Regions from separate parts of the Homo sapiens genome. Here region 2 is linked to region 1. The links come from fine-mapping of genetic effects on gene expression. A gene starts in region 1. The other region holds a variant in brackets. All regions are shown on one strand. Distances are between the middles of the regions. Region 1 holds the start of SCUBE2 (signal peptide, CUB domain and EGF like domain containing 2). Region 2 overlaps SCUBE2 (signal peptide, CUB domain and EGF like domain containing 2).

What was found. PIP is the estimated chance that this variant, and not a neighbour inherited with it, causes the effect.
Region 2: its variant is fine-mapped to the expression of SCUBE2 in thyroid (GTEx, PIP 0.90).

Annotation. Positions count from the first base shown.
Region 1 is chr11:9,088,622-9,093,994 of GRCh38, reverse strand. It overlaps SCUBE2 (signal peptide, CUB domain and EGF like domain containing 2), which reads left to right and starts at 2,396. Exons shown (of 23, transcript NM_001367977.2): 1 at 2,396-2,599; 2 at 4,166-4,288. The coding sequence starts at 2,467. It overlaps MIR5691 (microRNA 5691), which reads left to right and starts at 3,616; the gene lies at 3,616-3,683.
Region 2 is chr11:9,054,610-9,059,982 of GRCh38, reverse strand. SCUBE2 (signal peptide, CUB domain and EGF like domain containing 2) reads left to right here. Exons shown (of 23, transcript NM_001367977.2): 9 at 558-680; 10 at 4,074-4,190. NRIP3-DT (NRIP3 divergent transcript) reads right to left here. Exons shown (of 3, transcript NR_183663.1): 2 at 244-375. Among named protein-coding and RNA genes, the nearest start is that of MIR5691, 33 kb to the left of the region's middle. The variant C/T (reference allele first, on the strand shown) is at 2,438.

The DNA.
Region 1 (5,373 bases):
GTTCAGGGGCACGCATGGCCGGCCACTACCAGGCTTTCTTCAGCCTCCTCAAAGGCCCACACCAGTGTGACTGGGCTGGCTGGACTGCCTCTTCGCACCCCTGAGGCCTGGTTCATGGCCTCTCAGCCTGTGGAGAGGAGACAGGGAGAGGAAGAGGGAGCTTTAGCCTCAGTCCAGGGACGGTGTCTGAGGCCTTTCTGAGAAGTTTGTGGGGACCTCAGCTGCAGAATAGAGGGCAGCCTGCAGCCAGAGTAGAGCCAACCAAGTTCCTCCTGACACCAAAAACACTGACATTTGGACACAGTTTTCCCCTGGAGCTTCCCCCTGTGGAAATTCCCGGTTGTAAGCCATATTGACTTTAATCTCAAGTGTCAAAAAGGTTGCCCAGGAGTCTGGGAGCCAACAGCTGAAAGCACGTTTGTAAGGATGTCAGCGCAAACAAAATAGGATACAGAACATTTTTTGAGATCTGTGCCAGTGGTGGACTTTTCTGGGAAACATGACAAAAGCTGACAGTCTTAGGCAAAAAGGCGCTGATTCTTGTCATTATTAATTTATGTCCTTACTGAAAGATCAAGTTAGGGAAAGGTAAAGGGGAAGAATAGCACATGTGTGATTTCTTTGCCAGGCACAAGGGCGCTGCAGGAGGCTCCCCCTAGAGTTTAATGGGCAGCTTTATGTATTTATATGCTTTAACTGGAGCTAAAGAGGTCTGTGCCACACAATGGGCAGTTTCTAGTTGGATTTTAAAAGAAATAACTTTGATCATTTCAAAAGCAATGAAGCCTGATGCAGTGGAGAGAAAAGAAGGCAGTAATTTATGGCTACCATTAAGGACACAAAGACAAAGGTGGAGAGAACGTTTCACTAACTGAAGATTTACAAATGTGTAAAAACCACCCTTATGACCAGAAATAGCTGAGTGTCTCTCTCAGCACCAAACAAAAGGGAGTGGGAGGGAGGCGCAGACAGAAAGAGGGACGCAACCTGCCTGCCTTCACTGAAAGGGTCAAAAGAAAAACAACTACAGAAAAGTTATTTTCTCAGATAGCTCCATCAAGCAGCTGCACTAGCCACAGCCCAAAGAGGCAGGCCCCCGTGGGCATGTTCGGGGGCTGGGGTGGCAGACAGTGGGTACTGAGGGTGCAGAGGCTGGGAGCTCTGGGCTGTGGATAGGCCCCAAGAAGACATAAGAGTTTTTGTGCATGAGCTAGGTGGGGATTTTTTGGTGACATCTATTTTTTTTCTGATCTCCAAAGGAATGGTGTGTGTGTGTGTGCGCGCGTGCGTGTGCCTGCATATATACATATGTGTATGTATATAATCGCAGGAGAAAATTGAATAAATACGGAGAAGCTCAGTGAAGAACATTACTATCCCTAAGTGTGATGTTTGGTTGCGTCCGGAAATTGTTACTATATTTGTTCCTGGAGTGATGGTGGGTGTATTGGGCTCCAGCCATCCGTGTCAAGTGTGATATGGGAAGACCCTGTGTACCTGTTCCCTTGCAAGGACTGTCTTTCATGGAAGGCTAGGTGCTAGGCCCTGCCTGTGTTTGAAGCTAGCCAGACCTGATGTTTATGAGTTCAGGTGATCGTAAATGCCACCTGTACTCCGGCAAAGTCGGGGCTGCTGTCTGTTGTCTCTGGTGGCTCACCTTTGACCTCTAGCCCCCTTCCCCTTAGGCTGCCCTGAGATATACATAAGTAGCTTGCAGGGATTCTAGGCCCAGTGTGCCCCACAGTGGGACAAGTGGACCAGTGCCCTCAGGGCTGTGGGATGGAGGATCCCAGAGGGCCTGGGGTGGGCAGTGTGGAGAAGGGTGCAGAGGGTGTGCTGGGGTGGGCAGAGAAGCCAGGGTCACCTTCTCCATTCAAACAGCTGTTTTCCCGAATTGGAAGTCACCCCCAATTCCTTCCACTCCCACCTCCCACCTCCCACGTGGAAAGCCCCAAGATGGCTTTGGGGTTTGGGGACTATACGGAACACTTTCTGGGCGCCCTGACCCCGAATATTTCAATCTAGAAGGGCTGTTTGTCCTCACATGAGGGCCTGGGTCGAGTTGTAACACACTGGAACAGGCGCGGCACCGAGGGCTCCGAGCGTTGGAGCGGAGCGGGGATGCGGGGGGCAGCGGGCTGGGTGCCAGGGCTGCGCGGGGCGCGAGGCACGGTGCTGCCGCCCCGCCAGGCTGACAGCCGCGCTCGGGCCACCGCGGCCGCGCCCCCTCCACCCGAGGCCGGGGAGGGGACGGGAGGAGGCCGGGCGGGGCGGCACTGCTCCCGCCTGCGCTTCCCGCCCCGGCCCGGGAGGGACCGTGTGAAAATGAGGCCGGGGCTCGGGGGGCGGGCGGGGCCGGGCCGGGGGTGGCAGCGGCAGCGGGCAGGGCGTCCGCGCACACCTCCCCGCGCCGCCGCCGCCACCGCCCGCACTCCGCCGCCTCTGCCCGCAACCGCTGAGCCATCCATGGGGGTCGCGGGCCGCAACCGTCCCGGGGCGGCCTGGGCGGTGCTGCTGCTGCTGCTGCTGCTGCCGCCACTGCTGCTGCTGGCGGGGGCCGTCCCGCCGGGTCGGGGCCGTGCCGCGGGGCCGCAGGAGGGTGAGTGTCCGGCCGCGGGGGCGCACCTGGCACAGCAGGCAGGGCCAGGAAGAGTGTTTAGGTCCCCGGCGGAGTCCAGAGCCGGGCGCGCGGGGCTCGGGGCTGGCGGCTGCAGCTCCGCGGGGGCCTCTGCTCCCCCCGGGACCTCACCCGCCGGCCGGGCCAAGGCGCCACGACCGCTGGGGCCCTGAGTCCTTCGGCCCGGCCTCGGACCCGGAGCTGCTGACGGTTCCCGCCCCGGTCCGGATGCCTCCAGAGCGCCTGCTAGTCAGACCGTCGCCGGCGAGCAGGCAGGAGGGTGCGGACCCTGGCCTTGGGGTCCCGCGCCTCAGCGTAGGCGGGGAAACTGAGGGCCGGGCCGGGCACATCCGCGAGGCGGTGGCAGCTTTGCCGTTTCTTTCTTTGGGGGCCGGCAAGTTCTGCTGATGGCTTCGGGGTGGGCTCCAGAGACTTTTCTGTCAGCGGAACAGCGCCTGTTCCGATCTGGGAATTACCCTGAAGCAGCAACAAGCCTAGGTTTTCAGCAGAGAACTTTGGTTTCCAGAGAGGACTCTGGACGTGCTGTGCTTACTGGACTTGCAATACTTTCAAAATGCTTTTGTTTTTAATTAATATCCTGGAGTAGTGTCAACCCAGGAAATACTTCTGCCAAGGCGGGTTTCCAGGTTGAGAGGATGGGCAGGGGTGGGAGTGCAGGGGGCCGGCCATGGGGACACCATCCCCGCTTCGCAGCATCTGAGAGCCCTGGATGACATCTGCTCCGATCCCGGGGCAGACTTCCCATAAATACTCTAAACCAGCGGGGTGCAATCTTTTGGCTTACCTGGGCCACAGTGGAAGAAGAAGAATTGGGCCACACATAAAATATACCAACACAAACGACAGCTGATGAGCAAAAAAAAAAAATAAATAAATAAATAAAAAAAAAATCTCATAATGTTTTAAGAAAGTTTATGAATTTGCATTGGGCCGCATTCAAAACTGTCCTGGGCTGCACGTAGCCCACGGGCTGTGTTGGACAAGCTTGCTCTGAGCTCCGAGAAAGCTGACAGACAGCTGCTTGGTGTTCAGAGCTTGTCTGTCCGTTTGGTCCTTTCCTCCTTTAGCGGGCATGTAGGTACTATTGCCTACTCACATGCCAGGTACTGCGCTGGCTTGGCATAAGGGACACAGACGCAGTCTGTTGTCAAGACATTGTCTAGTGGAGAGAGAGGAAGGAAAACAGTGACAACCCTGCCTGATGTGTGCATGCAAAGCCATACATATGCGAGCACTTGGTGAGGGCAGCTACAATGGGGGTCATGGCAGGCTTCCTGGAGGAGGTGGATTTGAGCTAAGTCCTGAAGGCCAGTAGGTGATGGTGGGGGTAATTTCACGTAGAGTGTCCGGGCTGTTCCTGGAAACAGGGACCCAGAAACAGTTTGGTTTATCCCAGGGATCCCAAGCAGCTGTAGCTTGTGAGGAGTGAAGCGGGGTGGGCTGGTGAGGATGATGCCAGACAGGGCCGAGGCCAGATCACACATGGCCTGGGAGCCTGTACCAGGTGTCAGCTGTGCTCTTTTGCAGATGTAGATGAGTGTGCCCAAGGGCTAGATGACTGCCATGCCGACGCCCTGTGTCAGAACACACCCACCTCCTACAAGTGCTCCTGCAAGCCTGGCTACCAAGGGGAAGGCAGGCAGTGTGAGGGTAAGTGCCTTGGGGACCATGTGGGGGGACTGTAGGGAAGCTCCTACCTCCTTAGCTCTTGCAGTGGCCACTTATGTTGGTAAAAGTACTGCCCCTCCTCTCCCTTTCCCCCAGCCCCTGAATCACATCACCTGCTCTCTGAAATATATTTCAGATCTTGGACTGGAAACATTAGGTCTTCCCCAGAGCTGCTCACACAGTTTTATCTGGCTCTGAAATGTCCTTTTGTCTAGCTTCTGGAAAAGAAAAGAGATGTGTTAGTATCTTTGGGTCCCACTCAGTTTTGGGGCAGAAAGTAAACATCCATGCTGATCAGGAGAGCCATGCCTGCCAGAGCAGGGCTGATCCTGCACCTCCCTGGGGCGGTTTGTACCTTTGCCCTGAAGTCTGAGTGCTAGAGAGTCCTGCCCTCCCCTACCAGCTCAGGAGGCTCCATCCTGTTTATGGCTTTGGCCACAATGTTTGGCATTGTGACGTGCCAAGCTTCAGAGTACACCAAGGACCTTCCTCGTTTGGAGTTACAGGTTCACTCTGGAGAGATGTGTGCAGAGGGGCATTTTAGCCCATAGAGCTGCAGGTCTGAGAACCTGTGGTTTGGACTCTGCCATTTTATAATCTGGACTAGAGTCATGAACTGTGAAGTTCATAGCTGGCCAGAGACTGGACACTCGAGGCTGTTCCTGGAGATGGAAATCATGACACATTGGAGCTGACTGGGCTATTCAGGTAGCTCTGGGCCAATGCTATTACTCATTTCACAGATGGGGACACTGAGGGCCAGAGGAGTTGTGGCCATGATCACACAAGTTGCCTGCAAGTGAAAGAAAGTCAGGTCTCCACCCCTAGCTCTGTCCCCAACCCCACGTTTCTCATATTTACTCAGCCTGCTGCTGTCCTTCTTTGGATGAGTGAGAAATCCCACTGTCTATAGTCATCCCTTGCAGGAAGAAATTAGATGAGGAGCACTGAACTCATCTCTGAGTATCCCTCCTTGCTCCTGGACCCAACCTTGACAAGTATGTTGGTGGCCCCTTCCTCTTCGAGAGGTTTTAAACTCTTTAGAACTTGGGCTTAACTCCCATGGG
Region 2 (5,373 bases), 34 kb after region 1:
GACCCCAATGACTTGCTCATATTTCATGGGCAAGAGTACAAAGGATTAGCCCTTTAGCATGATAAAAAGTAGATAACCAATTGCCAGACGAAACTGGGAAAAGATAAGATTGAGTATCAGGAATCATTTTAAAACATTGAGGCTATTTGATCATTGTGTAATTTGCCAAAACAAATGCTCTAGTCCTTTATAGCTTTAATCATTAAACTTGAATACATAGTGTACTAAAGAGACCCATCTTACCTTGAGAGAGCAATACAAAGATGAGAATATAACAGGACGTCATCATTCTTTCCCAGAGTTTGTTTCCTTAATGCCAATCAAGGGCATCATAAGTCAGCGTTCTCAAGACGATGAAACACTTGTCTTTCAAAACTGGTTAAGCCAGATAAGAAAACATGTATAAGGTTAAAAACATCAGCAAACATTCTTAAATGCTTTTGTGAGTCTTTTTCTTAATTTCAGAGACTAATGAACACACACAATGGCCCTTCAGGGAGTTGTGGGAAATGAGGCAAGTATTGCTCTCTGATATGCCCAATGCTTTCCTGTTGCAGATATTGATGAGTGCCAGACCCGCAATGGAGGTTGTGATCATTTCTGCAAAAACATCGTGGGCAGTTTTGACTGCGGCTGCAAGAAAGGATTTAAATTATTAACAGATGAGAAGTCTTGCCAAGGTATGTGCTGAAAACATAGCTGTGCTGCGCAATGGCCCACAGGTTGGAGCAGAGAGAACGTAGCACCCTCCTGGCAGAGACTGGCTTATCAGGCTTCTTGACAGGGCCACTAATCCAATCTCCTTCCTAGGCTTCACTCATTTCATCTATTAGGTAAAATAAAAACACTGATGTAGCTCACAGGTGTATTTGGAAATTAAGCTGTTAATGGTTAGAGAACACCTTAAAGAACCCATCGATGTGATGACAGCAGAGCTCACTGCTAGAAATGGAATGGAAAACAGAATGCAAATGGGGTTCCAGTGGGGTGTTGAGATTATGAATAATTTTCCTTTTCTAAAATTTCCTTTAATGTTATTGAATTTATCACAAAAGTTGGTGGCAAAGTCTGTAGATTTAGTTAACATACCTCCCTAGCAAAAACTTGGAGTTAACCCATGATCAAGATTATGTACCAATTGGTCTCTTTCTTATAGCACTTGTTTTTTTAATTTTTTAATTATTTATTTATTTACAGACAGAGTCTCACTCTGTTGCCCAGGCTGGAGTGCAGTGGCATCATCTTGGTTCACTGCAACCTCCGCCTTCCTGGGTTCTAGCAATTCTCCTGCCTCAGCCTCCCGAGTAGCTGGGATTACAGGCATCTGCCACCATGCTCAGCTAATTTCTGAATTTTTTTTTTTTTTTTTTTTTTTTTTTTTTTTTTTGAGACAGAGTCTCGCTCTGTCACCCAGGCTGGAGTGCAGTGGAGCTATCTTGGCTCACTGCAACCTCCGCCTCCCAGGTTCAAGCGATTCTCCTGCCTCAACCTCCTGAGTATCTGGGACTACAGGTGCGCACCATCACACCCGGCTAATTTTTGCATTTTTAGTAGAGACGGGGTTTCCCTATGTTGGTCAGGCTGGTCTTGAACTCCTGACCTCATGATCTGCCTGCCTCGGCCTCCCAAAGTGCTGAGATTACAGGTGTGAGCCACTGCGCCTGGCCAATTTCTGAATTTTTAGTAGAGTCAGGGTTTCACTGTGTTGGCCAGGCTGGTCTCGAATTCCTAACCTCAGGTGATCCGCCCTCCTAGGCCTCCCAAAGTGCTGGGATTACAGGCGTGGGCCACCGCACCTGGCCCAGCACTTGCTTTAAACCATCAGCCTTTGATCTTTGAAGAGAGGGAAGGCAGAGAGGGAGGGGGAGGGCTTGTGGGGAGGAGATGCTTGTTGATCCTTAGAGAGGATTTCAGACCCCTTCTCAAACACATCCTTCCCATATAAGGGCTGCAGCAAGGAGACTTCTCTAGGTAGCAGTTGTTGTTAGTATTAGCAGCTGTTTTGGGTGGGGGAAAGCTGTTTTCTATTTTTAGATGAGCACCTTCCCTTTGATATGCAGAAGAAGTTCTCAGGAAAGATGTGCTGTAATGTATTCTTGCTCCATTTTTGGGAATAAGGACTAATTTATTTTGTTAGAAATCTCAGAATTAGGCTGGGTGTGGTGGCTCACACTGTAATCTCAGCACTTTGGGAGGCTGAGGCAGGTCGATCACTTGTGGCCAGGAGTTTGAGACTAGTCTGGCCAACACGGCAAAACCCCGTCTCTACTAAAAATACAAAAATTAGGTGGGGGCATGGTGGAGGGCGCGGTGGCGGGCACCTGTAATCCCAGCTACTCAGGAGGCTGAGACACCAGAATCGCTTGAACCCAGGAAGCAGAGGTTGCAGTAAGTCGAGATCATGCCCACGCACTCCAGCCTGGGGGATAGAGCGAGA[C/T]TCCATCTCAAAAAAAAAAAAAAAAAAATCAGAATTAAATAAAAATCAGAGTATCAGATTTCATCTTAGATAACAAAGATGTAGCATTACCTTTTTACAAAAATATTATGGTGTGATGTTTGTTTTGTTTTTCTCTTGGTTTGTTCTTAATGCATAATTTGTCAGGCAGTTCAAGTATATTCCTCTTTAAATTCAGTAAGTTAATTCTAGATAATTATTGTGTGGTTTTCTTCAGTTTGACTTGGAAAGCAAATTTGCTGTTCCACATAATGTTTCCTAGTGTATAGAGCAGGCAATACTGTTGAAGCTGTGTAAACACATTAAAAAGGAATTAGAAAAGTGATCTCATTATTTTTGGCAAAGCAAAAGCCCATACTGAGCAGCCAAAGTCAGCTACTGAACAAGTGCACTTTCTCGACAACTGGCTGATATTAATAACAGATTTCATAAAATGGCATCAATTCCTAGGGAAGAAACTAGGTTTTTCTCATTTTTCACTGATCGGTCTTGGTAGAACAAATACTTGCACAGAACAAATTTACTGAAGAAATGCCAGGATTTCTGGGAAAAGCTAGGGATGAAGAGGTTTTGCAAGAATTTGCCCTTTTTTATTTTGCTTTTTCATTCTTCCTGTTCCTTCCACATTTTTGCCTTTTATTAACATAGTTTCTCATGGCACACTCGGTGTTGAAAAAAGTGGTCTAGCAGTGGTCTAGTTGGCTTCGACTGAGTGCGGCACTGGTCCTGGTTTATCCATTTGGAGACACAAGTCGTAACTATGTTAAAATCCTCCAGAGTTCAGGGAGTGAAGCACTCAAATTCCAGCCTACAAGAAAGAGGTTGAGGGCCAGACCCAGGGAAAGAGATGCTGAGATGGACAAATGCAGCCTCCTGAGGCTGCTGTGCATGACCCCCGCTGCAGCCAAGGAGGCTTCCACACTGAACCAGGAGGCTAGCAGACTCATAGGACTGGCACATAGGGGAGGAGCAAAACCAAGGCATCGGCCAAAAGCATCCAATGTGGAGCTGAACTACCACATTTCAGGGCCTGCAAAGAGAAAATTAGTGAGGATATTAGTATTGATGCATTCTTTCAGTGCAGAGGGCATTAAAACCTAGGATTAACTGGCCTCTTGGGGCCAGAAGACTAATTCTGAGAAAATAAGAAAGGGATGGGAACTAGATTTACCTCCAAACCAAGTGTTTTCTCCTTTCAATTTGCCGTAGTTAATAAATTAATATTGCTGTTTTACTAATAGTTATATGACAATAAAAATGCATAGCTAGCACCTGTAGCTTACAAAACCCTTTTTAGGTATGTTATCTCATTTGGCTTCATTTAAACATTTTAAATTAGCCCTGCAAGTACGCATGGGTGAAAGAGACCAACTGAGTTTTGAGGGAAGTGCAGTTTGCAACAGAATGTGGAAATGAGGGCCGTGGCAGTCAGTATACTTCTTGTGGGCTGCTCCACACTTTCTTTAACACAAGTGAGTGAGGAAAATGGATAGATAATGTTTTTTACTCTGTGTGTATTGTTTTTGGTGTTGGTCAGCAACTGGTATTTATCATAAACCTATTCTTCACTCATCCCTCAGAGTGGGTTTCAGCTCCCCTCTCCCTTTGACCATTACAGATGTGGATGAGTGCTCTTTGGATAGGACCTGTGACCACAGCTGCATCAACCACCCTGGCACATTTGCTTGTGCTTGCAACCGAGGGTACACCCTGTATGGCTTCACCCACTGTGGAGGTGAGCAGACTGCCCCTGTCAAGTTGGGAGGGGAATGAGGCTGGGCCTGGAGGGGAGCAGGGCCTACCCCTGAGGTTTGCTTTCCTACATTGGGGTATGAAAGGTACATTGCAGTCCCTGAGCAATAGCGGTGAGTCCATCAACTTGAGAGCAGGATCTGCTAAAGGAAATCTCCCCACATGTATCCCTTTAACACACCGAGTGTGAAATGGAGCAGAGAGAAGAACTGAGCTCTTCCAGCTGTGAATTCTCTATCGACTTGATTGACTTGCGGCTGTATTCAGAGAGTGGAAGGGTATCTCAGGAGCTGATAACCTATCTATTGGAACATCTCAGCAGATAGTAAAGTCACAGTCCTCAGAGAGGCTTGGGGGGCACCCACCAATTCCACAGCCCTGCTATGCATAGGAACTGGCTGCAAAGCCTTGGTTTGAGTCCCACAACTAGGTCTTTGAGCTGGAAGCAGAACTATGAAGTTTCTCTCTCCACTCTGTGCCCATTTTGCAAAATGTTCTCATGTCTCATAACCTCATGGTCAAGCAGGCTATGCCATAAACTGGATTTGTTACCAACTAACTCCCACTCCACTCCCCCAGCCATCAGATTCACCCAGCAATCTTTGAGAATACAGGTTCAGATTCCAATTCAGAATGTCTAGGACTTCCAAGGTCATCTTCCTGAGGATCTATAGGATTTGGGAACCACTGGCTTAAATACTTCCTGACCAGTCCTGAGTCTTGTGCTTTAGAAGATTGGATATGCTGGGCGTGGTGGCTTACGGCTCTAATCCCAGAACTTTGGGAGGCCAAGGCGGGCGGATCACCTGAGGTCGGGAGTTCGAGACCAGCCTAACCAACATGGAGAAACCCTGTCTCTACTAAAAATACAAGATTAGCCGGGCGTGGTGGCGCATGCCTGTAATCCCAGCTACTTGGGAGCTGAGGCAGGAAAATTGCTTGAACCCGGGAGGTGGAGGTTGCAGTGAGCCGAGGTTGTGCCATTGCACTCCAGCCTGGGCAATAAGAGCGAAACTCCACCTGAAAAAAAAAAAAAAAAAAAAAAAAAAATATATATATATATATATATATATACACTAGTGCTTTGCTACTGACAGTTATCTCCCTTCTCCCTTTCAACACATCCTTGGCATGGCCAAAGACATACTACTCTTCCCAGTCCATCA